Regions from separate parts of the Homo sapiens genome. Here region 1 is linked to region 2. Evidence: fine-mapped expression QTL. A gene starts in region 2. The other region holds a variant in brackets. All regions are shown on one strand. Distances are from middle to middle. Region 1 has its middle 160 kb from the start of TFAP2C. Region 2 holds the start of TFAP2C (transcription factor AP-2 gamma).

The links. PIP is the estimated chance that this variant, and not a neighbour inherited with it, causes the effect.
Region 1: its variant is fine-mapped to the expression of TFAP2C in sigmoid colon (GTEx, PIP above 0.99). The same link has a PIP of 0.9 or more in transverse colon.

The regions. Positions count from the first base shown.
Region 1 is chr20:56,783,356-56,798,101 of GRCh38, forward strand. It overlaps the pseudogene RNU6-929P. Among named protein-coding and RNA genes, the nearest start is that of TFAP2C, 160 kb to the left of the region's middle. RefSeq lists enhancers at 5,006-5,765, 5,766-6,524. The variant C/T (reference allele first, on the strand shown) is at 6,691.
Region 2 is chr20:56,622,319-56,637,064 of GRCh38, forward strand. It overlaps TFAP2C (transcription factor AP-2 gamma), which reads left to right and starts at 6,988. Exons shown (of 7, transcript NM_003222.4): 1 at 6,988-7,274; 2 at 8,887-9,372; 3 at 9,487-9,538; 4 at 11,035-11,251; 5 at 11,832-11,950; 6 at 14,292-14,436. The coding sequence starts at 7,227. RefSeq lists enhancers at 2,488-3,250, 4,775-5,535, 14,480-14,746 and silencers at 6,899-6,958, 7,015-7,309.

The sequences.
Region 1 (14,746 bases), 160 kb after region 2:
AAACAGATCCGTTTTCTTCTCAGCCCTCTGAAGCTTGTGGATTGGCTGGGAGCAGCTGTGAGGGGAGGACCGATTCCGGCTGGCACCGACAGAGGATGTCTAGAGGGGGCATATTTGAATCCTAAACCCGGTCGTTTGACTCCCCAGGTAGCTCCGCGATTGTCATCACCAACAGTCTGGCATGGAACTGAGAATTTACAGGGATGAATGATGAGTTTCTTTTTGTTTATATGTTCCTGAGATTTTTTTTTTCTTAAAGAAGATCATATTGTGGCAGTAACCTTTTTTTTTTTTGTACTGAAATTGCAAAGTGTAGGAAAACACAAAGAAAAAATAAAAATGACCTAGAATCCTATCACTCAGTGCTTATCACAGCAAACATCTACCTTTCAGCCTTTTGTACATAAGAATTCATAATTTATTGGGTATAGTATTTTACAATATTCCTATCATATTGCCATTTTAAACTGTTTTTTTCTTTATATCAAGAATGTTTTGTCATGACATCTAATATGCAACATCACCTGAAATGACTGCATCGCACTTCATTGTAAACGCAAACCGACAGTTATTTAAACAATTCTCTATTGTTGGATATTTAGGCTGGCTCCAACTTTTTGCTCTTGTAAATAACTGTACAATGGATATCCTGGTATATAAGTCTTTGCACACATCTCTGATTATTTCCTTAGGGTAAATTCCTAGAAGTAAAATTACTGGTGAAATGATTCACACATATTAAGACTTTTGATAAATGCCATCATATTTGCCTAGAAAGTTTATGACAAATAACATTTCCAACAAGAATGTGAGTCTGTCTCCCCAGCCCCTCCTCATCTTCTCCAGTCCTGGGATACATTAACGAAAATGCAGAGGAAAAAAACATAAATAATTCTACCTCCAAAGTAAACCACTGTTAACAATTTGGTGAATATTTCCTCCAGATTTTTTACTGTGTACTTGTACTCATGTATGTGTGTGTGTTTCAGAAATGGAATGATGTATACATATTGATTTGTGACCTGATTTTTATTTTATTTTATTTTACTTTTTTTTAGATGGAGTCTTGCTCTCTTGCCCAGGTGGGAGTGCAGTGGTGCAATCCTGACTTACTGCAACCTCCACCTCCCGGGTTCAAGTGATTCTCGAGTGTCTCAGTCTCCCAAGTTGCTGGGATTACAGGCATGCGCCACCACTCCTGGCTAATTTTTGTATTATCAGTAGAGATGGGGTTTCACCATGTTGGCCAGGCTGGTCTCGAACTCCTGACCTCAAGCGATCTGCCCGTCTTGGCCTCCCAAAGTGTTGTGATTACAGGCGTGAGCCACAGCTCCCAGCCTATTAACCTTTTTTTTTTTTTTTAACTGCATGTTGTCATCATCTTTTATGAAGCATCAGTCACTTCCATGGCTTCATATCATTACAGCAAAGTCTGTACTGGAGAATATTTCACCAGTTCTTTAGTGCTGAGCCTACAGGCTGCTTTCAACATTTCCCATATAAATGATGTGGAAATACATTTCTTTCCTTATACGTAGTTTCTAAATAATTCCTTAGGAATAAAAAAAATGCACATTTTAAAGGACTTTAATATGTATTCCAAAACTCAGAACAGTTGAATCTGTTTCTTTCCTCCAGTTGTGAGGGTACCATTTCTCCATTTGGCTAACACCGTGGGTTACCATTCTTTTCAAATATTGCTACTCTGAAAGAGATACGGAATGATGTCATTACAATTACAATTTCCACCTCCATTGCTTGATTCCTCATGAATCTAAACATTTCTCCTGCATGCATTGCCCACTTTTATTTCCATTTCTGTGATTTGCCTGTCATTTTTCTTTAGCCATTTTTATGACTCTATACGAGCTTTGTCTATTTTAAGAGGCTAAATACTTTGTCATGTAGGTTGGGAATATTTTTCCTCATTGTTTTATGTCTTTTAATTGTATTAGTGATGGTTTTTCGTGTCCAGGAGTTTTAAAAATTAATTATAATGAATACAAGTTGTATTTATTTATTGTATACAACATAATGTTTTGAAATGTGTATACCTGGTAGTGTGGCTAATTCAAGCTCATTAGCATATGCATTACTTCATATACTTATTCTTTGTGGTGAGAACACTTAAAATCTACTCTTTTCCTGATTTTCAAGAATATCTTGTTGGCTGAGCACGGTGGCTTACACCTGTAATCCCAGCACTTTGGGATGCCAAGGCCGGCAGATCATCTGAGGTCAGGAGTTCGAGAGCAGCCTGACCAACATGGTGAAACCCCATCTCTACTAAAAATACAAAATTAGCCGGGTGTGGTGGCACATGCCTGTAATCCCAGCTACTCAGGATGCTAAGGCAGGAGAATCACCTGAACCCAGGAGGTGGAGATTGCAGTGAGCCGAGATCGCGCCATTGCACTCCAGCCTGGGTGGCAGAGGGAAACTGTCTCAAAAAAAAAAAAAAAATCTTGTTATTAACTATAGTCTCCACGTAGTACAACAGATCACTTGAAGTTATTCCTCCTCTCTAACGGAAAATTTGTATCCTTTGACCACCCCCTGGCAATCACCATTCTACCTTCTGCTTCCATGAGTTCACTGTTCCAGGAATTTATTTTTATTATTAAAAAAATTATGGAACGTTTCACAAATTTGCATGTCATCCTTGTGCAGGGGACACGCTAATCTTCTCTGTATCGTTCCAATTTTAGTGTATGTGCTGCCGGAGCGAGCACAGTCCCTGGAATTTTGGATGCTTATGTTGACTCTTCATGTTTTCCCTGGTGGTGTCTGCCTTCATAAGCCTAGAAGGGCCTTCAGGGGAATGGGTTTGAGGGCCCATAGCCACAGCGGGACAGTTGAACGAATATTCAGAGCAAAGCAGATGACACGGAATTTATAGGGCGAATGAGATGGCCTCTGGCTTCACAGAAGCTGTGTCAGTCACTCGGCAATGCAGCCTGGGAGGTGGAGAGCCCTCTGTCTTTTCTTAACTTTTATAAGGGTCTCTGAGCAACTCATTATGTGCAGAAAGAGCCCTGGGTAGAATCCTGGACTCTGGCAGGGCTGCCTACTCACCATGGAGCCTCAGTTTCTTCATTTGTAAAATGAACGAATGAGCCAGGATCGCCTCCTTGGACCCCCTGACTGCTCATGACGTATGGCCTTAAATATGGCTCTAAATGTTACTCCCCATGGAGCCCTTTCTAGGTATCTCAGGCCAGAGTCCTCAAAGGAAAGACATAAAGATTTGACTATATGAACATTAACAATCCCTGGACGTCAAGAAACACCACAAATAAAATTAAAAGACAAAGAACAGACTAGGAACAATGTTTTCAACAATTACGTCATTCAGCCTCCCGACTCAGCCAATGGGTGGATGATTCCTGACTTTCCTCCCCCAGAGGGGTGGGGAAGGTGCAAGGTGACTTGGGAAGACAGCCAGCTTGGGGCACAGGGAAGGTGCTCAGTCGAGGCTTTTCATTTTCTTGAATGAATGAATGAGTGAGTGAATGAATGATGAAATCTGCATCCTAGGTACTGTGTATCTTCCTTTGAATTCTGCCCCATTTATTTTTATTTTTATTTTTATTGTTATTATTATTTTTGAGATGGAGTCTCCCTCTGTCACCCAAGCTGGAGTGTGGTGGCGCAATGTCAGCTCACTGTGACCTCCACCTCCCACGTTCAAGCGATTCTCCTGCCTCAGCCTCTTGAGTAGCCGGGACTACAGGTGTCTGCCACTGAGCCTGGCTAATTTTTGTATTTTTTGTAGAGACGGGGTTTCACCATATTGGCCAGGCTGGTCTTGAACTCTTGACCTCAGGTGATCCACCTGCCTCAGCCTCCCAAAGTGCTGGGATTACAGGCGTGAGCCACAACGACGGCCTATTTTTATTTTTATTTATTTATTTTTTAGATGGAATCTTGCTCTGTCGCCCAGGCTGGAGCGCGGTGGCGCAATCTCGGCTCACTGCAACTTGCACCTTCTGGTTCAAGTGATTCTCCTGCCTCAGGCTCCTGCGTAGCTGGGATTACAGGCGCCACTACCACACCCGGCTAATTTTGTGTATTTTTAGTAGAGACAGGGTTTCACCATGTTGGCCAGGCTGGTCTCGAACTCCTGACCTCAAGTGATCTACCTGCCTCAGCCTCCCAAAGTGCTGGGATTACAGGTGCGAGCCACTGAATTCTGCCCTATTTAAATGAAGAGAAGACAGATCCTCGACCACAAAGAGAAAGTGGTTCGCTTCTGTTGCTTACTGTGGGGTTGGCGCTGTGGAACGTCCCAGCCTCCTCTGAATTCATCTGGAAAACGGGTTTAAAAATTCTTACTTCCCTGCCTCCTGCCTCCTCCCTAGAACGGACGTCAGTTGGGATGAATCAGAGCCTCGGTATTTTGGCTCAGCCGTTGTTTTGGCAATAAGAATGATTAAACAGATAGTTTATTTATTTTACTCTCATCTTCTGTACCCACATCTCTGGAAGAGCTGTGTTCATAGGTGTGGAGACAAGTAAAGAGCTTTCTGACGAGTCAGAAGCTGGTCATGGGAAGGAAATGAGGGCATCTCCTAGGTAAAGGAATTTTTATTTTCTCACTGGATTTCTTCTCACTTTAAACTGGTTCTTTTGTGTTCTTACTTGGCTGGGAATGTCTGGAAGTCAGCACTCCAGCTGCTGAACTCCAGAACTCAGAAAAGATGCACATAAATAGACTTTGGTTGCAGCATGAAATATTGGGTTAGACATCAAGAGGGACTTTCTAGTCAATGAGATTGTGTAGGCAGAGGAAGAAATGGAGGAAAATCATAAAACTTTCTACTCTGTGGGAAAGGTAGTTTTCTGGGAGGCACTCCAGCGCCTTTGGGTGAGACCTTGTGCCACGTTCCCGGAGGCCTGGGTGGCAGCAATGAAAGGAGGAAGTGAATGCAGCCCTGATGGCAGGCTACTGAGGACAACGCAGCACTGCTCTCCCATTTTACAGCTGCAGAAACCGAGGCAAGATCCTGCAACAAATATTTACAGAAGGTGTCTGCATGCCAGCCTTATTCTGAGTTCTGAGGACACCGCAGTGAGGGAGGCAGAGTACTAGCAAACAAGGTCATGAATATGGAATGTGATATTGTGCAATGATGGGGCTGGACAAGGAAGTGAGCGGTAGGGAGGGATGGAAGCTGCTGTTGAAAGAATGGTCAGGGAAGGCCTCTTTGGGGCAGGGTCATGTGAGATGAAATGACTCACCCAGGGTCATTTAGACCCCAGATACAATTGAGTCTGCTTCCCTGGCTCCTAGTCAGGGGTTCCTCCAGGGTGTTTTTGGGCCTAAGTAACAGAAAACCCAACTCAAAAAGGCTTACGCCAAGAAAAAAAAGTTTGTCTAAAAAAATCCAAGGGTAGAACTTGTTTCAGGAATGTCTTGATCCAGGATCTCAAATCACATTGCCAAGCCCTGCCCTCTCTTATGTCTCTGCCTCTTCCACAAGGGTTCTAACTCCCAGGCTCCCTGTGGGAGCAGGAAGGTGACAGTGTTTCCAGGCCCACGGCTCCCAGGTTCAAGCTGGCAAGAAAGAGCTGCTCCATCCTCATCCATTTGAACAAAAATGCTGGGCCTGACTCCCTCAGCCAGGTTTGGGTAACAGACCCGCTTTCTGAACCAATGGGAATAGCTAGGGGGATTTTCTGCATGGACTGGGCAGGCTGTGTCCCAGGCCCATCCTGGAGCCCTGGGCTGTGGGAAGGGAGGGAGCATCCCCAGGTGAAGTTTTGACCCTTGTTAGCAAAGGAGGAAGGATGATTCAGGCCGGCCCCAACCTAGCCATGAAAGTGCTGCCTGGCCCCCTCTCTGTACTGTGTCCACATCCATCATTTCCCCCAGGCTTTATTGAGCACCTGCTGTGTGCGTCCATCTCTGTTTCCCAGAGCTTAGACTTCAAGGTATAGGAATTGTTTTGTTTTCATTTTTTTTTATAATCCTCCAAGATCTTCCAGTCTACTTGAAGAAACAAAAGCCACATCCTGTTTTTTATCCTGTCTTTTTGTGGCTTGCTCATGGCATGAATTTTCTAGCTGTCAACAAAGGGAGGGGCGCTTTTGGGCTGGAGGAGTCAAGAGGCCTTCAGGAAAAAGGAGGGCTTTTGATACATTTTCTTTCTTTCCTTCCTTTCTTTCCTTCCTTCCTTTCTTTCTTTTCTTTCTTCTTTCTTCTTTCTTTCTTTTTTTTTTTTTTGAGACAGAGTCTTTCACTGTTACCTGGGCTGGAATGCAGTGGCCTGATCTCAGCTCACTGCAAACTTTGCCTTCTGGGTTCAAGTGATTCTCCTGCATCAGCCTCCCCAGTAGCTGGGATTACAGGTGTCTGCCACCACATCCAGCTAATTTTTTGTATTTTTAGTAGAGATGGGGTTTCACCATGTTGGCCAGGCTGGTCTCGAACTCCTGACCTCGTGATTTGCCCGCCTTGGCCTCCCAAAGTGTTGGGATTACAGGCGTGAGCCGCCACGCCTGGCCCAGTGCATTTTCAAGGGTGGCTTATATCAGGAGAAGGTTGACAGAGGCTAGAACTTGATAGTGCATGCAGGCTATGGTGAGCGGGACACACACCGTGTGATTATGACTTTTTGGGATGTGTGGTTAAAATGTGTGTAGTTCTTGAACCACTGAGGTTTATAAGATTATAAGGCAGGACACAGG[C/T]ACATGTTTATCTTAGTAGTCAGGTATTTATTCCAAGTTTATGTTAGAAGCAACTATGTTATTAACTTATCAGACCTGGATAACATTGTTCAGGATGAAACTAAAATTAACAAAAAATAAAAGTGGCAGGGAGTCCATTTAAACAAATATCATACATATAGGTGGTAGCAGACATGGCAAAAATGTTGTTATGAGAATGAGTAAGGCTGGGCGCAGTTGCTCACGGCTGTAATCTCAGCACTTTGGGAGGTCAAGACGGGCGGATTGCTTAAGGTCAGGAGTTCGAGACCAGCCTGGCCAACATGGTGAAACCCCATCTCTACTAAAAATACAAACATTAGCCAGGCATGGTGGCGCATGCCTGTAATCTCAGCTACTCGGGAGGTTGAGGCAGGAGAATCACTTGAACCCAGGAGGCGGAGGTTGCAGTGAACAGCGGTCCCGACCCTGCACTCCAGCCTTGGTGACAGAGCAAGACTCCATCTCAAAAAAAAAAAAAAAAAAAAGTAAGTTTTGGGAAATGCTGGTCTAGCCCTCAGATTCTGGAAGCAGAAAGACATGGATTCAAATCTCAGACCCACCCCACATGTACAGTGAAGCTTTGGGCCAGCTGCTTCACCTTTCTAGCCCTCAGTTTTCTGACCAGTAAAATGGGGCTGAGAATGGGATAGGAGCAGTCTCACGGGAGATGTTCAGGAATCTCTGAGATGTGGTTATGTGAAATGCCTCTTCTCCAAGGGGACATTCAGTAAGTTAACTCTCCATAATCTGGATTATTTTTCCCAGGAAAGAAAGAAAAAAAAAAAAGGCCGTCCAGCTACATGTGCAGGAAGTGCAAGGGCCAGAGGTGGGAAGGAATGTGGCAGGTTAGGGAGACTGCTGCAGTGGGGTGGGGTGGTCCCTGCAGGAGAGAGCAGGGATGGTGTTGTGTCAGGGAGGAGAGGATTTGCAATTTTACAGGAAACCTATGGAGTAAATAAGCCTCCTCTGGGACTACATGTGGTACCTTGGAGGACGGGCTTACCTGTTTCACCCAAATCTCTTTTTGCTCCCAGCAGACCTCTGAGCGCCACTGTCCACCGCAGCCTGGGGCTGGGCTCATCTCTCCCCCATCCAGAGCTTTCTGTGCAGACAGATTCTGGTGAACCTGGGTTGGGCTCCATAGATTTAATCTATGTTGTTTATCTTTTAAACACCATTAACCACAAATTAGCTGATTCTTTTGTGGCTATAAATTAATAGATTCCATTAGTGAACAGCAAATTACAGGATGATTACTTTTCCTCCCTGAACTTGGAGCTTTTTTTTATAGCTTTTTGAGAGGGTTTGGTTCTGTCCTCTTCCTGCTGCCGCTTTCCTATCTAGGTTCTTTGTTCATTGGACCAAATCTTCTGAATGGCCCGGGAGGCTGAGAGTGGGTGACATGGACTATCTTTGTAATGAGGTTATAAGCCTGTTCGCTTTGCAGAAGCAAAACTGACTGGAGGTTTGTTTTCAAGAGAATTTTTGTTTCAATCACAGACCAAACCAGCAAAGTTGCCACCTCCTTTTACTCCTGCGTATAACATAAACACATCGTATTTGCTTTTTCTTCCATAGCTTTGTTACTTCTGAGGCCTCATTCTGGTAAATACTGGATAATCTTTTCTTTCTATCCATCTGTCTATCCATCCATCGATTCCCTTATCCATCCATCCTCCTCTATCCATCTGTCCACCCATCCATTCATCTACCCTTCCTCCCTCCCTCCCTTCTTTCCTTCCTTCCTTCCTTCCACCTGTTCCTGTTCCTTCATCCTCCCATTAAGACACAGCTGCCCCTACAAAGCTCAGCTGAGGGTCTGGCTGGAGCTGCCAGGAGGGGCACTGATCCCACTACATCCATCTGCCACGTCCTAAAGCATTCGGGTAGTGACATCGGGCTAATTTTTGGAACCCGTAGCTGCACACCTGTTATAGGATGGCAACCAATGTGCTCTCAGGTGCTAGGCAGGTAACTTAAACAACTAGGTAGGTAGGCAAAAATAAGTCTCAGGGCTTCAGTGAACTGTGGGGTTCAAACCACTCCTAAGACTTTCTAATTCAAATAAAAAATAATTTTTTTTTTTGTTTTTGAGAAAGGGTCTCACTTTGTTGCCCAGGCAGGAGTGCAGTGGCATGATCATGGTTCACAGCAGCCTTTGTCACCTGGGCTCAAGTGATTCTCTCACCTCAGCCTCTTGAGTAGCTGGGACCACAGGTATGAACCACCAAGCTCAGCTAATTTTTGTATTTTTTGTAGAGACGGTTTCACCATGTTGCCCAGGCTGGTCTCAAACTCCTGAGCTCAAGCAATCTGCCCATCTCAGCCTCCCAAAGTGCTGGGATTACAGTTGTGAGCCACTGCTTTCAGCCAAAATGCAGTATCTTTAGAGTTTGGGGTTGGGTTTGTGACTTTTGACATATCAATCAGAATTCTTTAGTTGCAAGCAACAGAAATGGACTCTTCTAGGCTGAATAATGCCTCCCCCACCCCCACCAAAGATGTCTATGATCTCATTCCTAGAACCTGTGAATCTTACCTTACAAAGGGACTTTGCCGATATGGTCAAGTTAAGGATTTTGAGATGAGGAGATTATCCTGGATTATTAAGGTGGGCCCACGGAATCGCAAGGGTCCTTGCGAAGGGGAGGCAGGAGGGTCAGTCCAGAGTAGGAGATGTGCTGGAGGCAAGGAAGGAGCCAGGAGCCAGGGAAAGCAGGCGGCCTTTGGAAGCCGGGAGAGGCAAGGAAACAGATTCTCTCCACTGTTTTCAGCAAGAACGCAGCCCTACTGATGTTTGACTTGAGTCTAGTGAGGTTGATTTTGTCCTTCAGACCTCCAGAACTGTAGGAGAATACATTTGTGTTGTTTTGAGCCACAGAGTTAGTAGTAATTTGTTCCCACACCAATAGGAAACCAATACACTAGCAAAAAAGGAATTTTTTTTTTTTTTTAAGACAGAGTCTCACTCTGTTGCTGAGGCTGGAGTGCAGTGGCATGATCTTGGCTCACTGCTACTTCTGCCTCCCAGGTTCAAGCGATTCTCCTGCTTTGGTCTCCTGAGTAGCTGGGACTACAGGTGTATGCCACCACGCCCAGCTAATTTTTGTATTTTTAGTAGAGACGAGGTTTCACCATGTTGGCCAGGATGGTCTCAAACTCCTGACCTTAAACTCCTGATCTGCCTACCTCAGCCTCCCAAAGTGCTGGGATTACAGGCATGAGCCACCGTGCCTGGCTGAAAAAAGAAATTTATTAAGAGAACTTGTAGTAGCCTCTAACTCCAACTAAAAACAGAAACTCCAAAAGGGAGTTCCAGAGGGAGCTGTGGCTCTAGAGAGCAGGCACAAAGAACAGTCCCGCAGGGCACCTCCGCTGGGATGAAAATCAGCATTTCCCATCCGTTCTGAGGCTGCTCAAAATTCAAGTTCCAAGGAGAGAGTCTGGCTGAACTTGGGGCCAGTGCCCATGCCTTGGAGAGGGAGGACATCATAACTGAGAGTCTTGGTGGGCTGGAAGTTGCCCAGAGCACAATCAGATGCCATGACTGGAAGAAGGGGTCAGCGCCCGTCCATGGGAAAGAGAGCCGATCACTCATTTTGAGTCTGTTGCCCACCCTTTGTCCAGTCTGCTTTGGCCAGGGTGGGGGCATGGACAACCAGGATGGCAGTTGGGACCCTCCTCTTTAAGGACAAGGGCTGGGCAGACACACTGCTGTGGCCTAGATCATTCCCAGCTATGTTCTACCCTTAGTAAGCCCAGCTGTGGGTGCTTTCTGATTAGAAATCTGAATTCTCAGCCTCGGGGAGGGCGGTCCAGCCCTACTGACCTCAGCTTGTGGTCTGCACCCCATGCTGATTCTTGCTGGGATTAGGGTCACCGTCTCCTAACTGGCCCCGGTTTTGGAACTTTTCTCTCTAGCCTCCCATCTTTCCAACATGTGTCCAGTTTTCTTCCACAATATAAACACATTAATTCTTCCCGGAGTGCTGAGGGGCCATGACCATGATGATCTCAACACTCTGGGCATTTTGGGCCAGATGATTCTCTGCTGGGGTGCGGTGGGAACATCTCTTGTACATTGTAGGATGTTGAGCAGCACCTCCAGCCTCAACCCGCAAGATGCCAGCAGCACCCTCCCCGAGAGTGTGACAACCAAAAATGTCTCCAGATGTTGCCAAATGTCAAGGGCAGTACCGGCCCTGCTTGGGAACCTCTGGTTGGAAGGATCTCTCTATTTCCACCACCTCTCCCACCATCCCAGCATCCCTCCCTCAGCCACGGTTATCATTGGTGTCTCAGTTCCCACCCTTGATTTCTTCCAGTCTATTCCCCAGAACCTGCCAGGGAGATGTTTTCTGGAAAGAAAACCTGATCTCCCGTCACTCCTTTGTCTGAAACTCTTCTAGTCTCCATGGTGCTCTTGGCTAACATCCCACCATTCGCTGTCTCCTATCAGCTCTTCCAATTTCGCCAGCCTCATGGCCCATGCCCCTCCCCGCTCCCCTTTAAGCTTCAACCACACACTGACCTTCTCTGGGTCCCCTACTGGGTTTTTCCACTCCAGGGCCTTTGCACATTCTGTTTCCTCCCTTTTTTTTTTTTTTTTTTTTAAGACAGAATCTTGCTCTGTCACTCAAGCTGGAGTGCAGTGGTGCAATCTCAGCTCACAGCAACCTCCGCCTCCTGGGTTCAAGCCATTCTCCTGCCTCAGCCTCCCCAGTAGTTGGGATTACAGGGGCGCACCATCATGCCCAGCTAATTTTTGTATTTTTAGTAGAGACGGGGTTTCTCCATGTTGGTTAGGCTGGTCTCGAACTCCTGACCTCGTAATCCACCCACCTCAGCCTCCCAAAGTGCTGGGAGTATAGGCGTGAGCCACCGTGCCTGACCATTTTTTTTTTTTTTTTTTTTTTTGAGATGGAGTCTCACTCTGTCACCCAGACTGCAGTACAGTGGTGCGATCTCGGCTCACTGCAGCCTTCACCTCCCAGGTTCAAGTGGTTCTCTGCCTCAACCTCCCAAGTAGCTGGGATTACAGGCACCCGCCACCACGCCCGGCTAATTTTTGTATTTTTAGTAGAGACAGGGTTTTGCCATGTTGGCCAGGCTGGTCTCCAACTCCTGGCCTCAAGTGATCTGCCTGCCTTGGCCTCCCAAAATGCTGGGATTACAGGTGTGAGCCACCATGCCCAGCCTGTTTCCCCTCTTTGGAAAACTCTTCCTGCCACTCTTTCCTTCATTAACTTACTCATCTTTGAGACCTGTTTCACTTAGGAATGCTTTTGGCTAAAATTATAGTGGTTTAAACAAAAACAGACATATTTTTCTCCCATAACAAAAAATCTGGAGGCGGCTGGTTTCTAGTATTGGTTCTGTGACTTGGGGCTGCTATCTCTGCGATTCTCTTTGCTGTTCCCTCAGGGTCACAAGACGGCTGCCTCAGCTCCAGCTATCTCATTCCCATTTAAGGCAGGAAGAAGGACAGTGGAGCCAGCTGACTTCAGCTTGCATCTCATTAGTCACAATTGTTCATGGCAACCCCAGCTGCAGTGGAGGCTGGGAAAGTGTTTAATTCTTGCAGCCTTGATAGAAGGAATGAGTAAAGGAGAATGGGGTTGGGAATGGCTGTCCATTAAGTATTGGTTTAAATGTCACTTCCTCCAGGAAGCCTCTCTTGATTCCCTAAACCAGGTCTGATAATCCTATTACATGCTCTCCTTGTAGATAGTACCTCTCTGTCATACCCTTATCACCACCTATAGTTTTTTTTTTTTCAATTTTTTTTTTTTTTTGAGATGGAGTCTCACTTTGTCGCCCAGGCTGGAGTGCAGTGGCACAATCTCAGCTCACTGCAACCTCCGCCTCCCGGGTTCAAGCGATTCTCGAGTGTCTCAGCCTCCTGAGTAGCTGAGATTACAGGCGTATGCCATCATGCCCAGCTAATTTTTGTATTTTTAGTAGAGACGGGGTTTCATTCTGTTGGCCAGACTGGTCTCTTACTCCTGACCTCAAGTGATCCACCTGCCTTGGCCTCCCAAAGTGCTGGGATTACAGGCGTGAGCCACCATGCCCTGTCTAAAACCTATAGTTTATTAATTTGCTTGTATAATCGATTAATAGGCATCTGTTTCTTCTTGGGGCTGGGAGTTTAGTTCATGAGTTCACTCCTGTTTCTCTAGCCCCTAGCATTGTGCCTGGCACCCAGTAGGGCCTCAGTAACTATTTCTGGTCTATACTAACTGCTGCCAAGTAATTCTTCCCGGAGCACTGAGGGACCATGACCTTGGCTGGCCCAGGACCCCCTCTGACTCCCAGGGGAAGGACAGACAAGAACCTCCTTTAATCAGGTGCCTCCCCAGCAGTGGCCAAGCCTTGCTCTGGCAAGCTTTCTATGCCGCCCAGGTTTCTGGAATGGGTCCATCAGAGTTTCAATTGCACCTCTGTTGGCCACAGCATTGATAAGGAGAGGAAGCTTGTATGCAGATCAGTTCTGAGATACTGCACAGAAAGGAAGCTACTTCTGTTGCGTCACCCTGTGCCCTGGGAGGATTGAGGATCCGCAGGACCCAGGGCTGATCCCCACCCACCTCATCTCTGGCTTCTGCCTGCCAGGTGGGACTTTTAGGTTTTCTTATTTCTTTTTATTAATTGATCCAGTTATTTCACATGTGATTTGTAATTTTCACTTAAAATGGAAAATGTGAGTGACATCAAGCATTGGCTTTCTGCATATTTATTGGGTATCCATTGTGGGCTGGTGGTGGAAATTCAGAGGTGAACAGGAGGTTGCTGCCATCCTTGCCCCCTTAGGAACTGCAGTTCAGCTTGGGAGACAGACAAAGGCATTAATCACAGATATAGATAAATGAAAAATTGCAACTCTCATAAGCCTTGTGAAAGAGAAGAAATGAAATAGATATAATTTTGTATTTGTCCATTATGCCTTAATAAAGCTGGGGGAAAGAAGAGAAGAAATGGTGCCAGAGAGTCTATGAAAGGGATTCTCCTTAGGGAAGTTAGAAGAGGCTTCCCTGAAGCTGCAATGAAATGAGCTCATGCAGGAAGGAAAATAGGGGCCAGACAGGTGAGCAGGCCCAGAAGGTGCGTTTCAGGCCACGGGAAGAGCCAGGGCAAAGGCCCTGGGATGAGGCTTAACATGCCACAGTGGTTTCCTGAGCTGTTACAACAAATTTCCATGAACTTAGTGGCTTAAAACAACAGATATTGATTCTCTCACAGTGCTGGAGGCCAGAAGTCTGAAATCCAGGTGTCAGCAAAGCCATGTTCCTCCTGGAGGCTCTAGGGGAAAGATCCTTCCTTGCCTCTTCCAGCTTCTGATGGTTGTCAGCAACCCTTGGCGTTCCATGGTTTGAAGACGCCTTACTCCAGTCTCTTCCTTTTTCACACGGCCTTCTCCCCTGTGTCCCGGTGCCTCAAACCTCCTTTTTCTTTCTTTCAAAAAGACACAAGTCGGCCAGACGCGGTGGCTCACGCCTGTAATCCCAATACTTTGGGAGGCCGAGGTGGGCAGATGAGGTCAGGAGTTCGAGACCAGCCTGGCCAACATGGTGAAACCCTGTTTCTACTAGAAATATAAAAATTAGCCAGGCCTGGTGGCGGGCACCTGTAATCCCAGCTACTCAGGAGACCGAGGCAGGAGAATCGCTTGAAAGTGGAAGGCGGAGGTTACAGTGAGCCGAGATTGTGCCACTGTACTCCAGCTTGGGTGAGAGAGCGAAATTCTGTCTCAAAAAAAAAAAAAAAAAAAAAAAAAAAAAAAAAAAAAAAGACACAAGTCATTGGATTTAGGGCCCATCCTAAATCCAGGATGATCTTGTATCAAGGTCTTTAACTGAATTACTCCTGCCAAGACCCTTTTTCCAAGTATTGTTTCATTCACAAGTATGGGGGGTTAGGACTTGGACATATGTTTTTGGGGACATTATTCAATTCACTACATGAGTCTGAGAAATTGAAAGCAGACTCACATGGATGGATTGTAAGGAGCCCGGGGTCCTGGCATGGGCTGAGG
Region 2 (14,746 bases):
GGCCAGGAGCAGTGGCTCACGCCTGTAATCCCAGCACTTTGGGAAGCCGAGGTGGGTGAATCACTTTGAGGTCAGGAGTTTGAGACTAGCCTGGCCAACATGGTGAAACCCCATCTCTACTAACAATACAAAAATTAGCCAGTTGTGGTGGCGGGTTCCTATAGTCCCAGCTACTCAGGAGGCTGAGGGTGGAGAATTGCGTGAACCCAGGAGGCGGAGATTGCAGTGAGCTGAGATGGCACCACTGCACTCCAGCCTGGGTAACAGACTGAGACTCTGTCTCAAAAAAGAAAAAAAAAAAGTTGATACTGTGTTACATGTTTTTTTTTTCTTCTTTTTTTTTTGAGATGGGGTCTCGCTCTGTCACCCAGGCTGGAGTGCAGTGTCGCCATCTCGGCTCACTGCAAGCTCTGCCTCCTGGGTTCATGCCATTCTCCTGCCTCAGCCTCCCGAGTAGCTGGGACCACAGGCACCCACCACCACAACCGGCTAATTTTTTTGTATTTTTAGTAGAGACAGGGTTTCGCCGTGTTAGCCAGGATGGTCTCGATCTCCTGACCTCGTGATCCACCCACCTCGGCCTCCGAAAGTGCTGGGATTACAGGCGTGAGCCACCGCACCCGGCCCACTGTGTTACATGTTTCTTTATTGCTGCTGCTGTGATTGTATCACATGTAACTACAACAACAATAAAAATCTTCCTTTCTGGATTAAATTTTTAAATAAAATCAGGATGTTAACAGTGATCATTGTGCTTATTTTGAGAAATAATTATAACAGGATATATTAATTGCAACCCCCGCAATAAGAAAAAACAAAAACCAAAACCCAACCGTAAATAAGTAAAAAGTTGGCTTTCTCTCTACACCTCCCCTCCCCCAACCCCATCCTCCTGCCTGGGTGTACCTTTCAGTTACTCCTGTAGCAGGGACATACAGAATGGCATGTGTCGCTCTTAGTGATCAAAATCCTAGTCAGGCCTCCAATGAAGATTTATTTTCCCTGCATTTTTGTATTCTGCCTATTTTTTGGCCCAAGAAGTAGCCAGGGATGAATGTTTAAACCCTTTTTCCATGAAAGTGTCGCTGTGCTGAAGTCACTTTTTGTTTTGTGCAGCATAAAAATGCACATTCCATTCTTTTTTTTTTGAGACCGAGTCTAGCTCTGTCACCCAGGCTGGAGTGCAATGGGATGATCTTGGCTCACTGCAAACTCTGCCTCCTGGGTTCAAGCGATTCTCCTGCCTCAGCCTCCCGAGTAGCTGGGATCACAGGCACGTGCCACTGCAGAGTAGCTGGGATTACAGGTGCGCGCCAAGGCACCCGGCTAATTTTTTGTATTTTTAGTAGAGACAGTAGAGACATTTCACCATGTTGGCCAGGCTGGTCTTGAACTCCCGACCTCAGGTAATCCGCCTGCCTCGGCCTCCCAAAGTGTTAGGATTACAGGCGTGAGTCACACGCCCAGCCTCTTTGTGCATTTAAAACACTGCCTTTGCTGGGCGCGGTGGCTCACGCCTGTAATCCCAGCACTTTGGGAGGCCGAGGCAGGCGGATCACCTGAGGTCGGGAGTTGGAGACCAGCCTGACCAACACGGAGAAACCCCATCTCTAGTAAAAATACAAAAATTAGCCGGGCTCGGGCGTGGTGGTGTATGCCTGTAATCCCAGTTACTCTGGAGGCTGAAGCAGGAGAATCGCTTGAACCCCCGGAGGCGGAGGTTACGGTGAGCCAAGATCGCGCCATTGCACTCCAGCCTGGGCAACAAGAGCGAGACTCCATCTCAAAAAATAAATAAATAAATAAATAAATAAATAAATAAATAAAATAAAATAAAACAAAACACTGCCTTTGAAGGCTACTGGGGCACTGGTAAACTCTGGGAGAGGTTACCAGCAGGTGGGTGGAACTCTGCTTGCCTGCTGCTGCTTTTTTATTTCTTCTAAGGCATATGTAGAGCAATCTTGGATAAGTTTTCAACTCACCTCTCTTGGAAGGAAGCTGTTTGGGTTGCCTGGGCAGGTTTTGTGTGAAAACCAGCAAGAACTCAGATGATGAGAAGCAGCTTCTGTACAAGTCTGATTTCTCCTGCCTGGCCTGGGTGATCACAGTGGGTCCCGGGATGTTTAAACTGATGGTAGAGTCAACCATCAGCATTTATTTCTGTGTTTACAGTCTTCTTATTCTATTTTACTGGGCTCTTGGTTTTTGCTTGCCTGCCTACCTTCCTTTCTTCCTTCCTTCCTTCCATGTACTTTGCCCCTTTCTTTAAGGCAAATTAGCATGTAATGTGCAAACCAATCTCTCTGGCACTTAAGGAAGACCCCAAACCCCACTCCCTTTCTTCCCCTACCCCAAGAATTCACTACCCCTGGTTCAATTTCAGCTGAACCCGGAAACCTGTGATGTGACATGAAGGCTGAGAATTCCCAGAAATGTTAATACTTTTGGTCTTAGAAACTAACCAACTAAAAAAAAAAATCCCTTGCCAGTAAGAGGTAGGCTACATTTAAAATAATTTCTGACTGAAGAAGTCCTACGTACCGCTTGTCATATACATATGTAAAGATAATTTAAAACCCTAGGGTATACCCTTTTCAAATGCAGAGTTTATAGTTTCCAAGGGGAGGAGGGCAGGGGAGGAGTAACCAGGACCTTTCCTGCCAGTCTTCCAATCGCGATAGCTCGTTTTGGCTGTGAATTTCCCCCCTTCCCCTCCCCCTCCCGTTAATTAAATAAACGCTGGAAGCGTGTGTTTACCGCACACGACTCGGCCCTCGGGGAACTCTTTTTCTACGTCTCTCCTACTCTTAAACTCCTCAACTCACAGAGGGTTGGAGAGCTGGCACCATGAGCTTCCAGTTCCTACGGGTGAGAAAAGAGGTGTCTGTGTGGAGGGCAGGTGCGACCCCGGGGGCTAGCAGAGAGGAGAGGCTGCGGGAGGACTCGCTGCGAAGGGCGAGGGGTGGCGCTGGGTGGGACGGGCGCCTGGGGCCGTGCAGGGTGGCTCCTGGGTGCTGCCCGGGCTGCCTGTCGCCCAGTACTGGCGCAGGAAGACGGGTCCGCGCAGCGTCTGGCAACAGTGGCCTGCTCCACGCCTGGAGGCGACCAAGTTCTGAGTTAAAGGCGCCGGGCTTAGCCGGGAAGTGTATGGCGACCCAGAACACGGAGCGGAGAAGGCCTCAGGGGACACGAGGCTACCGCCTTAGTCCTCGGGCCTGCGCTCCGAGCGGTTAGGGTGCGTACGGATGGGCTCCGGGATGTTAGTGGAGAGGTGACAGGAGTCTACCATCCCACGGCCAAGCGTGTGAGGCCTCCGGCGGGCGGGGGTCCCCCCCGGGGCAGGGCAGGGGGAGAGTCAGGCATGTCTCTAACGGGCTCCCTAGTAGAACCGCTAGGAAAGTGGCCTTCAACCCTAGGCACCTTTGTGGCTTTCAGGTAGTTGGGCGACTAAAAATTCACTTTTGCCTGCTGTGAAATGGGACAGGTGGTTGTCAGGTTAGAGACTGTGCCCACGAAGTCTCGTTTGGCGGGCCGGGACTGACGTGGACCCGGGCCCTCCTCGGAAGCTTGGGAACCTGTGAGCCCCTCAGCTCCTCGCCTCACTTTGCCTGTTTGAAAAAAGGAGTTGTTTGAGAGGAAGAGTTAAGGCTCAAAAGGTTCTAAACGAAGAGCATGCGGCCTGACGCGGAGCGCAAAGAAGCGAGCAGTGAACTGAATCTGGTGGGACTGAGACCAGAGGCGTCTGTATGCGGCGGCCGCTTCGCGCCCTATTAAAGCAATCTGTTATTTACGATAATCATTTTTGTAATTATTTTGGAGTGGCTGTGACTTGATGTCTGTGGTGCCCCAGGGCATGCCCTTACTGGACATAGATACTTCAGGGTGCCCTTTGACGCCAGTGTCGGTCCAGTGGGTGCCAGTGCCGCGAAGGGAGGGTGGCGGGCGTGAATGCCCCCTCCTCCTGGGTTTGCCGCAGGCCCCGGCCTTTCCACCTTGCTTGATCCTGGCGGGTCTGCCACTTACTGAGGTCCCTACCGGCGCTCACGTTGTCCCGAGAGGCGGGACAAACGTCCGGCGCGTGGCGCGGAGTCTGCGAAAGCGCTCGGGGGCCTCCATCTTCTGCTCGGGAGTCCCCTCCCTGGGGCGGGAAGAGGAGTCGCAGATCTGCCCGAATCTTGCTCTACCCGCCTGGCCGCCTTCTTCCGTCTGGGGTGGGGGCAGGGGTGGCGGATGACTCAGGCCTGGGGCCGGGAGCCCTGTTTCCAAAGGCACCACCTCGCGCCTCTTTGGAAGTGGCGCGCTGTTGGGGCGCTCCCGCTGTTGCAGAGGCCTGGTTTGCGGTTTCATAGGGGCGTGGGTCCAGGGCTTCCAGGGAGTAAGTGAGTTTAGGCTCCCTAGGGGGCGGTAGAGGGGAACCCCCGACAACCTTCCATCCTCTTCTCCAGGCGGCTGCGAGGCCTCCGGGGTTCCAGAGGGGTCCCCTTCTGCCGGTGCCGGCTGTCTTGAGCGCGGCCACGCAGTCCGCGTCTTCACGTGGGCAAGGGGCGGGGACGTTGGAGGGAGGCTGTCTTGGATGCTGGAGCCTTCGGTTCCCGGCTCTGCTGAGCAGAAAAGTTGAAGTCAAGGAAGGGTTGAGGCTTCCTCACAAGGGCGCGCGCGTGCCTGGGTGCCGGCCCAGAAGCCGAGAATGTGCGTATTGGGGAAGGGTCTCCCGTGCCGAGAAGACAGAGGATTTGTTCTAGCTGCCTTCCGTACAGAGGGCGCGGAGGTTGCGCTCCAGTTCGAACGCTTACCCATTGGAAAGAGGGCAGCGCCGGGGTCCAGGGAAGCTCCTTGGGAATGAATGGCCTTTGCCAAGCGGTTCCGGATCCTCTGGGTCCTTTGGGCCCACGGCACGGTGCTGCGCGAGCCCTCAGTGCCCATCGGCTCCCTTCGCCTCCTGCGTAGACGCTCCCAGGCGGGGAGGCATATCGGTTCCTCCGGGCAGCTTTGGCTAGTGTTGCTGTGGGAAAGGAGAGCCAGGGCCTGGGATGGGGGATGAGCACCTTCTTGCCCATTCCGGGCCCCAGCGTGCAGGAGGTAAACTTGCCAGCACAGACAAGACAGCTTGTTCAAGCTGCACCTCAGGCCGGGTCAGAGAATAAAACCGAGGGCTAGAAGGCCCAGAATGTCGGACAGCCCAGCGGCACCCGTCAGGGAGTCCCAGGCGCCCGAAAGAGGCGCCGCACCTCTGGCGAGTCTAGGACCCATCTTCCTGGACCTGTGCTCTGGAGTGCCTGCGGGCCTGGGTCTAATTTCTGCTTCTGGCAGGTGTCCCCCTCCCCCGCCGCTAATACCAGGAGCGCTGCTTCTGCGGTAACTTATTTTACCCCCAGAAGCCTGTTTTGGGACCGAAGTGTCAGGGTCCTGTGTGTCTTTTTATGCACTGTTCTCCTTAGTGCAAAGCCCTGCAGATATGCTTGGCCGAAAAGTCTCAGTGGTTTCAACTTCCAGATTTTGTTCCCGCGTCCGGTCGGAAAATCACCTGGGATTTGGCTGCTGTCTAAGGCCGGGGGAAAGTTTCCCTTGGAGGACGCCTATTATTATTATTTTCTTTTAGGCCCACCTGGGTCTAAATAAATGCTAAAGTTCAAACGAACCCGAGAAGGAACAGCGAGGCAGTGGATGCCGCCATTCCGTGGATGGGAGAGTCATGTCTACTGCAGGTGCGGACACCGTACTGATAGGCATTGATTATTGCAAAATCGTATTCAGTATCAAATAGAAATAGTCTTGTCCTCTAATCCCCACAGAATGTTTAAATCCAGCCCAGGGAGCCAGTTGGGGCGTCCCAACAAATACGCCCTCGAGAATTAGCGATGTTCCCCTTACAATGAAAGTCAATTGCTGCATAATAACTGGGCCAAAGAATTTCGTTAGTTTAAATTTTAAAAATTAGTATTGCACTTTGCTTTCAAGTTTGGGTGGCAAGTACCGAAGGGGAGAGGGAAGCAGCGTTTGTGTGGAAGGAAGTTTCGTTTTCTGTCTAAACATGTGGGACCTGGGTGTCTACCTCTCCAGTCGAGAGCTCTCTGCAGGCTCTCTCCCAACTTCCTGCACCTCCTCACCCTCACCTTACCCGTGGCGCTCGGGTTTTATTCCTGCCCGGCGCTTCTTTCCCAGGGCGAGTAGAGGCTTCTGAGTGACCGGCCCGCCAGAGGCAGCTGCAGAGCCGGCGTTCCGCAGGGCAGGGCAGGGCCGGGCCGCTGGGCTGGTCCAGTGCGCGCGGGTTCCCCCTGGCCTCAGCCAGCCGCGGGAGATGCCACTTCGGGCGACAGCGGCGAGACGCCGCTGTCCGCAACTCCTGGGCGGGTAGGACCGTCTGCTGCCTCTGCGGCCCTTGGGGCAGACTCCCCAGGAGTCCCTTCCTCTCTCCTCCCGCCCGGGGGCCGGGACCGCGCTGTGCCCACGGAGGGAACTGGGCGTCTCTGGCGCACTGGGGCTCCAGCTGCATGATCCCAGCTCAGACCTTAAGCCTCAGTGGGGTGTAGGTGGGATGGGATGTGTTTTTAGGAGATGAGGAGACCCCGGTTGTTGAGTCGCTCCCCAAATGCGCAGTTTCTTAACTCCAGGTGACATCCGTCTTTTGGAGGAACGAGTGAAGGCCGTTTAGGCGAAAGAGGGGTGGGTTTCAGTATTTGGATCCCTTCCCCCAGCTCTGCCAATCTCAGGTGTGTTTACGGTGGAGGTGACAGAAGGAAGGCGCGTCGGGGGACCCAGGCCTCGCAGGTCTTCGGCTGTCAACGAGGCACCGCCCACTGACTCCGCGCTTCGTCCCTCACAGCGTGGGGCTCGGCGCTGCGCCAGGCCCGGGTGCGGGGCGGAGCTAGGCTGGGACTGGCTGGGGGCCGCCCCGCCCGGCGCCTGGGCCTCCGCGCCGGCCCCCGGGGAGGAGTTATGATAATTTCCTTCTCATTAAGGCGCTCGGGTCCCCCGGCTATCGCCAGGACACACTGTTCGGGCGCGGCTTTCCCCGTCCGCGGAGCGGTCTTGACACTCGCGGCGGCAGCATCTACGCTCGCAGAGCCGCCGATGCGTGTCCAGTGACCCGGACAGCAAGGCCCGCGCGCGGCGGGGGCGGCGGCAGACGCCTGGTCACCGTGACCCCGATTTTGGATTTACCGCTTGGGGGCTGGGGGGATCCTGGATTTAACTGGCGACTGTTTTGGGGGACGCCGGACGCCATGTTGTGGAAAATAACCGATAATGTCAAGTACGAAGAGGACTGCGAGGTGAGCTGGGGCTCCGGGGTGCAGCCCCGCCCCGCCGAGGACAGTCCGGGAGGCAGGGGCCACTGGACCGAGGTCGGGGACGAGGGCATAGGAGCCCTGGCCTCTCGGTGGGACGGGATCCACTTCTCCGGACACCCCTTAGTCCATTTCTGCGGGGCCCCTTTCCTGTATAGGGCCTTTTCCTAAATAGCCTCCCCTCGGGAACGAGGCCTGGAAAGAGAATGGCAAATCCCACCCACACAGCTTACCGGGCGCTTTCCTAAGCGGCAAACAGCCCTGCTTCCCGTTTTCTCGGAAAAGTGCCCCGTCTGCAACCCTCAGACGTGGCTTTTACGCACGAAGTCTCTGTCCAAAGGGGTCAGATGAGGCTACCTGCTAGCGACACCTTGGCGGACACTCCTCCAAGGCCGGCTTGTCACCTGCCCCGCTACCTCCTCGGGGAAGCACGAAAACAACCGAAGTTTGGCTTTCAAAAGAAGTGGGGGCTGGGGAGTGGTGGTGGGGGTGCCCGAGGCCAGATGGGGCCGTAAGAGCTCGCGAGTGCTCCAGCCTGTCGGACAGGTTGAGCTAGAGTTTCGGAGAGTGGGAGGGAAGAAGGAGGCGGCGAGCGGGAAGAGGAAGAAGACGCAGGCAGCGCTAGGCGAGCTCAGGGGCGCCGGGAGCGCGGAGCTCGGGCTACGGACTCGCGGGAGTTCACTGCGCCTCCGGGCCCTGGAGGGCTGCCCCTGCCCGCAGGCCCGGGCGCTTCCGCCAGGAGGCGACAGCGCCATGTTCCTCCAGGTTCCCGGCGCCCCGAGACCCCTGGGCAGATGGGGACGCATCCTTTAGAAACTGAGTCGGGCCGCCCAGGGGCGAGGGAACGTGCGCGGGCAAGGCTGCCCAATTTCCAGGGTTCTTCATGCCCCCTCTGCGCCCCGACGTGCGAGAACACTGCCCTTGGCAGTGCAGGGCGCCCCCACTTATTACTCCCCTCGGCTGGGCCCGGCCAGCAGGGAGGGCCGCCCTGTGCGCGCGCTCCCTCTTCACTTCCCAGGGCGGCGCAGGGTGGCGGGCCCTGCTTTCCGAGCGCCGCCCGCTCGGAGGTCTTTGTCCCGAGGGCGTGGAAGGGAGGGTCCCGGGGGCGGGGGAGGTGCGCATTTCCCGCGCCGCGCACTCTATCCGCGCCTGCCGCGCTGCCACCTCCAGCAGTCCCTGCGTCATGGGCGGGCTCCACGAGATAGCTCTGCACCGGGCGTCCGGCTCCTTCGCCCCGGGCTCTGGCTCCTTCGCCCCGGGCTCCGGCCACGGACTTTTCTGGCCCAAGACCCAGGGTTCGGACTTGGCGCCTCCAAGCGCCTCGGGCTTGGGAGCAGCGCCTAGACCTTCGCCGCCGGGCTTTGAGAACTCGTTCCCCCAGGTCTTTCACCAGACTCTCCTCCCTCCCCGCACTCTTTGCTTACAACGAAATCCTCGGGGCGCATTGCCCCCGGGTACCTTCCGACCCTGGGCAAGCCCCGCCGGGCGGGGTGCGGTTGGTCCCCCGGGGCCCTCTGCGTAGCCCGGCGATGCCGGCCAGTTCGCAGTAGCGGGGTTTCGCACTAACGGGGTCTCCTGTTTTTTTTTTTCCCTCCAGGATCGCCACGACGGGAGCAGCAATGGGAATCCGCGGGTCCCCCACCTCTCCTCCGCCGGGCAGCACCTCTACAGCCCCGCGCCACCCCTCTCCCACACTGGAGTCGCCGAATATCAGCCGCCACCCTACTTTCCCCCTCCCTACCAGCAGCTGGCCTACTCCCAGTCGGCCGACCCCTACTCGCATCTGGGGGAAGCGTACGCCGCCGCCATCAACCCCCTGCACCAGCCGGCGCCCACAGGCAGCCAGCAGCAGGCCTGGCCCGGCCGCCAGAGCCAGGAGGGAGCGGGGCTGCCCTCGCACCACGGGCGCCCGGCCGGCCTACTGCCCCACCTCTCCGGGCTGGAGGCGGGCGCGGTGAGCGCCCGCAGGGATGCCTACCGCCGCTCCGACCTGCTGCTGCCCCACGCACACGCCCTGGATGCCGCGGGCCTGGCCGAGAACCTGGGGCTCCACGACATGCCTCACCAGATGGACGAGGTGCAGGTGAGCGGCGCTGCGGCTCCTGACCGGACCTGTTCACCCTACGGCCTTCTGCCCCCACCCCGCACTCCTCTAGGCTCCCCCGAACTTAAGGGAATTTTGTCCTCTCTCCCCCAGAATGTCGACGACCAGCACCTGTTGCTGCACGATCAGACAGTCATTCGCAAAGGTAAATAGCAAGGTGGCATCGTCTAACTCTGGTCACACGATCTGGGCTTGTGAAGTTGACTGGCAAGGTTGGGGGTATTTGGTGGCCAGCGTGGGACATTTGTGGTAGAAGGGACTGAAAGGGATTCATGGAAGCTAGATTTTAGGAGTGACAGAAAGGGATTTCCCTCCGACCTCCTAGGAGCTGTCTCTTCATCTCCGGAGTTGTTACTGCCTAGTTTTTTTTCTTGGAAAAATGTCCATGAATTCCAGTGGGTGTTTCACAATGTGAGAGAAAGTCTTCCAGAGCGAGTGAACACTGATTTAACTTGAAAAACAACAAGAAAAAAGTCACAGGCACACCTTCGTTGAGTGGTTGGTTCTGTAACAATTTTAATTGTTGAATAAGTTGTGATTTTATTTTTGATTTCAAACACGTGTATGGAAAACCTCCTTAATTCTGACCTGCAAGAAAAGTTTTGAAGCAATTTGGCCTACCAAATGAATACCTGTAAAAGGAACAGAGCTTGGAATGATCTGTCAGAGGGAGAGTTTTGCAGGATGGGGAGGAGGGGATTTGGAAAATTGGATTACTTGGTGAGTGAGTGGTTTATGAAATTAAGTTACTTAACTGACAGGATTACCAGGATTACCATTTTGACTGTTTTGGGAAATAGAGTAGGCCTAAATTGAAGGTAGTTTTGGCCTGTTACTTGAACTGCTTAAATGGATTGAGGATGGAGGAAAAATGGATTTTAAAGAAAAACTCAGAAAAGACTACAAATTTTCAGTAAACTTAGAACGTATTAGTTTGGATGATTAAATTTACTGTGATCAACTGCACTGAAAAATTTTGGAAAGAATCTTAATGTGTCCTATGATTTTGGTTGTTCTTGAGGGGAAAAAACTCACCGTTTATTTAGTATTGAAGCAGTCTTCTGAAAACAAATGTTCTAATTAAATAGTTTTCAGCAGCTGCTAGGAAAAAAAAAAAAAGAAACCCTCCAAGCTTTGGATCTTCACTAATTAACTTCCCAAGGTGTTAACTTGTGAATTTCAGATTAGATTTGTCTCTGAAGTAGGGGGCTTTTTTAAAAAGTCAGCCATGGCCAGGTGCAGTGGCTGACACCTCTAATCCCAGCACTTTGGGAGGCCAAGGTGGGCAGATCACTTGAGGTCAGGAGTTTGAGACCAGCCTGGCTAACATGGTGAAACTCCATCTCTACTAAAAATACAAAAAATTAGCTGGATGTAGTGGTGGGCACCTGCTGGAGAATTACTTGAGCCCGCAAGCTGAGGCTGCAGTGAGCAGAGATCACACCACTGCACTCCAGCCTGGGCCACAGAGTGAGACTCTTATTATTTTTTTTTTTTAAATAAAGTCAGCCTGCAGTTGATCGTGGGGTGTGCAATGATGCTTGTCTAAAGATCACTTTCAGCTTTGGTTATTGGTTTTGAAAAGGTCTCTTTTGCTCAGAGAGAGCTCTTGTGACTGCCAGCTCTGACCTTCATTCACAGGTCCCATTTCCATGACCAAGAACCCTCTGAACCTCCCCTGTCAGAAGGAGCTGGTGGGGGCCGTAATGAACCCCACTGAGGTCTTCTGCTCAGTCCCTGGAAGATTGTCGCTCCTCAGCTCTACGTCTAAATACAAAGTGACAGTGGCTGAAGTACAGAGGCGACTGTCCCCACCTGAATGCTTAAATGCCTCGTTACTGGGAGGTGTTCTCAGAAGGTACTTGGGGCACAATTCTAGGCATAGTGGTTGGGTAGTTGAAGGTGAGTGTATCAGAGGCCCAGGAGGTATTTTTAACATTTATGTGACTTTATGCCTAACACTGAATTCTAATCGGGTTAGAGTTTTAGTACATTTCTTCTCCTTTAGAAAGTGCCAAATGTGGGAGGAAGTGCTAAAACGACGCTCACAAATTCTCACTTGGTTAGAATTTGATCCCATGTATGAAGTGATAGCATCTGTATTGAGGGGAGGTGGGGGGAGCACCCTGGGTTTGTTCCCCAGGGAGTTTTTGTGGGGCCGTTGTAGTTTCACAAGTGAAAATTTGTCTGCTCCCATACAATTTGAAATATTCGGTGATGCAGAGTTGGATGCTAGGAAAGATTGATTTTGTATCTTACGGGGACTAATTGAAAGAGGACCCTGCTATCACTTTTCATTATGGTTCACGTGATGTAGATAGTCTTTGATGGGTTTCAGCTTTGACAGCAGCACTTTAGGAGTTTAGAATTTTTAAAGTGTGCGTGTGTATGTGTTTTTGTTTTTGAGAGTAGCCAGAGTCAATTTTTCTTTTTCTTAGAGCCAAATCGAAAAATGGAGGCCGGTCCTTGCGGGAGAAGTTGGACAAGATTGGGTTGAATCTTCCGGCCGGGAGGCGGAAAGCCGCTCATGTGACTCTCCTGACATCCTTAGTAGAAGGTCAGTGGGGTTTTGTTTTTGGTTCGTGATGTTTTTAATTTGTGCCTGTGTCTTTAATACTTATTGCAGAAAAACTGGAAAACAACTCTTAAAACTTGGTTGCAAGTAGAGATGAAAGCAATTGGAATTGTTCTCTAAGTTTATTGGAATGAATCACAGTTAATTTTATCGAATAAGTTAACATTTAAGTATCTGGTTGCTCAGGTAGGCTCTTCTGTATTCCCCCAGAGAATCAATGTTGGAAAGAAACTGGTTTTCCTAACCTAAGAAATCACACTCTAGGGGTGTCGGCATTTCCTGTTAAATGAACCAGTTTTTTTGGAAGATAACAGCTGATCATTTGGTACACCTTGAGTAAAAGCTGGTTACTTACTGGTGAGCAGAAGTACTGCTTCTGTTTTTTGTAGCTGTGGGTTATTTTGTAGCTGGGGATTGTGGTCAGTGAAGAGAACCTCTTGTATACAATACGACTGGCCCGATTCACAATTCTATTCTTCCCTCCCATCCAAAGAAAAAAACTAATCGAACCCCTGGCCCACGCACAAGTTCCTCTTGCCAGTGCTAAGATAGTAGGACATAGCATTTCAGTTTCTTGAATGGGGGGCCCCTTTACCCCAACCTGGACAGTAGCCAAGAATGCAACACAACCTTTAAAAGGAGCTGAAGGGAAAGTAAAATAATTTTTTAAAAACAAAACAAAGCATGTTGTTACTGCTCCCGGGAAGAGTTGGACGCTGAGAGAGGCTTAGGGCTCTCACTATGGGCAGGGGAAGCCAAGGAGAAACGGGCTCCCCGTGGCAGTACCCTCTTTTGAAGACTTTCTTTCCTTGCTCTGATGGCGTGACGTGGTGCTCAAAGAGACTTGGCAGAGTCCCTGCTTTACCTTTTACGAGTGCCTTTGGAGGTCAGGGCAAGGAGAAAGGAGCTGCCTGTCTGAGAACAGCTGTCCTGCCTGTAGAATCGGCGGTTCTGCTGGGGTTTCTTGCTAGCCAGGCAGGGTGATTGAATAAGAAAGTGTGCTCCAGAACAATGGCTCTCCAAGGCTGCTTCAGTCAACCCAGGGGGCCCCTCCACCATCTGGGTTTTTGCAAAGCTCACCAGTCCTGCACCCTGGAGCCAGGGAAGGTACCTCTTGGGTGGGAGAAACTCTCTTGGTTGCCTCCCTTAGCTCTTCCACTGACTTGGACAGGGAAAAGGGTGCTCCAAGTTGGTTTTTAGGAGAAACATCCCTCCCATCTTTTTTAAAAGAAACATTCTAGAGATCTGCCCCTTCAGTAAAAAGGCACTATTAAAAAAAAAGTAAGCTGTCAGATGTCACCATTTTATAGAGAAGTGACTAGTTTGCTTTTGTCAAACATGTTTATAGCCCTTAAATTTTCCTACTTCCCCAAAATGATACTACTTAATATAAAGAGAAAACATGGGTATGTTTGATTATCTGTTGAGCAGAGGACTGGTAAACATTTTTCAAGTTTACTCATCTCAGTATCCATGGGGCACTGGTTCCAGGTCCCATACCAAAACCTGAGGATGTTCAAAATGTTATATTTGTATATAACCTACACACATCCTTCCGTATAGTTTAAATCATCTCTGCATCACTTACTTATAATACCTAATACTATGTAAATGCTATGTAAATAGTTGTTACATTGTATTGCTCAGGGAATAATGGCAAAAGTCTGTGTGTGTTCAGTACAGACACAACCATTCATTATTTCCCCCCCGAATCTTTTCAATCTGAGTTTGGATGAATACAGATTCTGAACCCACGGATACAGAGGGCTGACTTGATTGTGCAGTTAGAAGTTTCAGGGTCTTTTCTGCTCACATTGTGTGATCTCCACCCTCTATTCCTGGGGTGGAGGACCTACTGAGAATCCCTAGAAAGTTCTACCTACCAGCTGAGTTGTCTGCCCTGTATATGATTTCGTTCTTGCATGCAACGTATGACTGGTAGACAATGAATACTACTAGAAAGAGAGAAAATGGGGGCTGGGTGCTGTGGCTCATGTCTATAATCCCTGGCATGAGCCATTGGTTGAGACCAGGAGCTCAAGACCAGCTGGCCAATGTGGCAAAACCCTGTATCTACTAAAAATACAAAAATTAGCTGGGTATGGTGGTGCATGTCTGTAATCCCAGCTATTCAGGGGCTGAGGCACGAGAATTGCTTGAATTCCGGAGGTGGAGGTTGCAGTGAGCAGAGATCGGGCCACTGCACTCCAGCCTGGGCAACAGAGCGAGACTCCGTGTCAAAAAAAAAAAAAAAGAGAGAGGAAAAGGGCAGTTTGGCCTCAGTGACCACAGCCATCCTAAAAGCTGTTGCTGATTATTCTAGGTGAAGCTGTTCATTTGGCTAGGGACTTTGCCTATGTCTGTGAAGCCGAATTTCCTAGTAAACCAGTGGCAGAATATTTAACCAGACCTCATCTTGGAGGACGAAATGAGATGGCAGCTAGGAAGAACATGCTATTGGCGGCCCAGTAAGTATCTGAACTTGAATTTGATGATGACTCAATGCTCTAGACCTTGAGGTTGAGAAGATTCCCCCTCCACAGTCCCGATGGCTCAACAAAGAAATATTCTTGAAATAAATTAGGGTGGAGCAAAAGAAAATGGCAAGGGAGCTTCTTTTACAAAGTCAAATACATTAACTTTTTGTATGATTTAGAAGAGTGCATGACTCAGCCATGAGTATTTTTGAGCTGCTTAGTTATTCAACCCAAAGTAGTTGAGCTGCCCTTTCATTATTGTGTTAGCATATCTTACAAAAATGTGTTGAAAACCCGATTT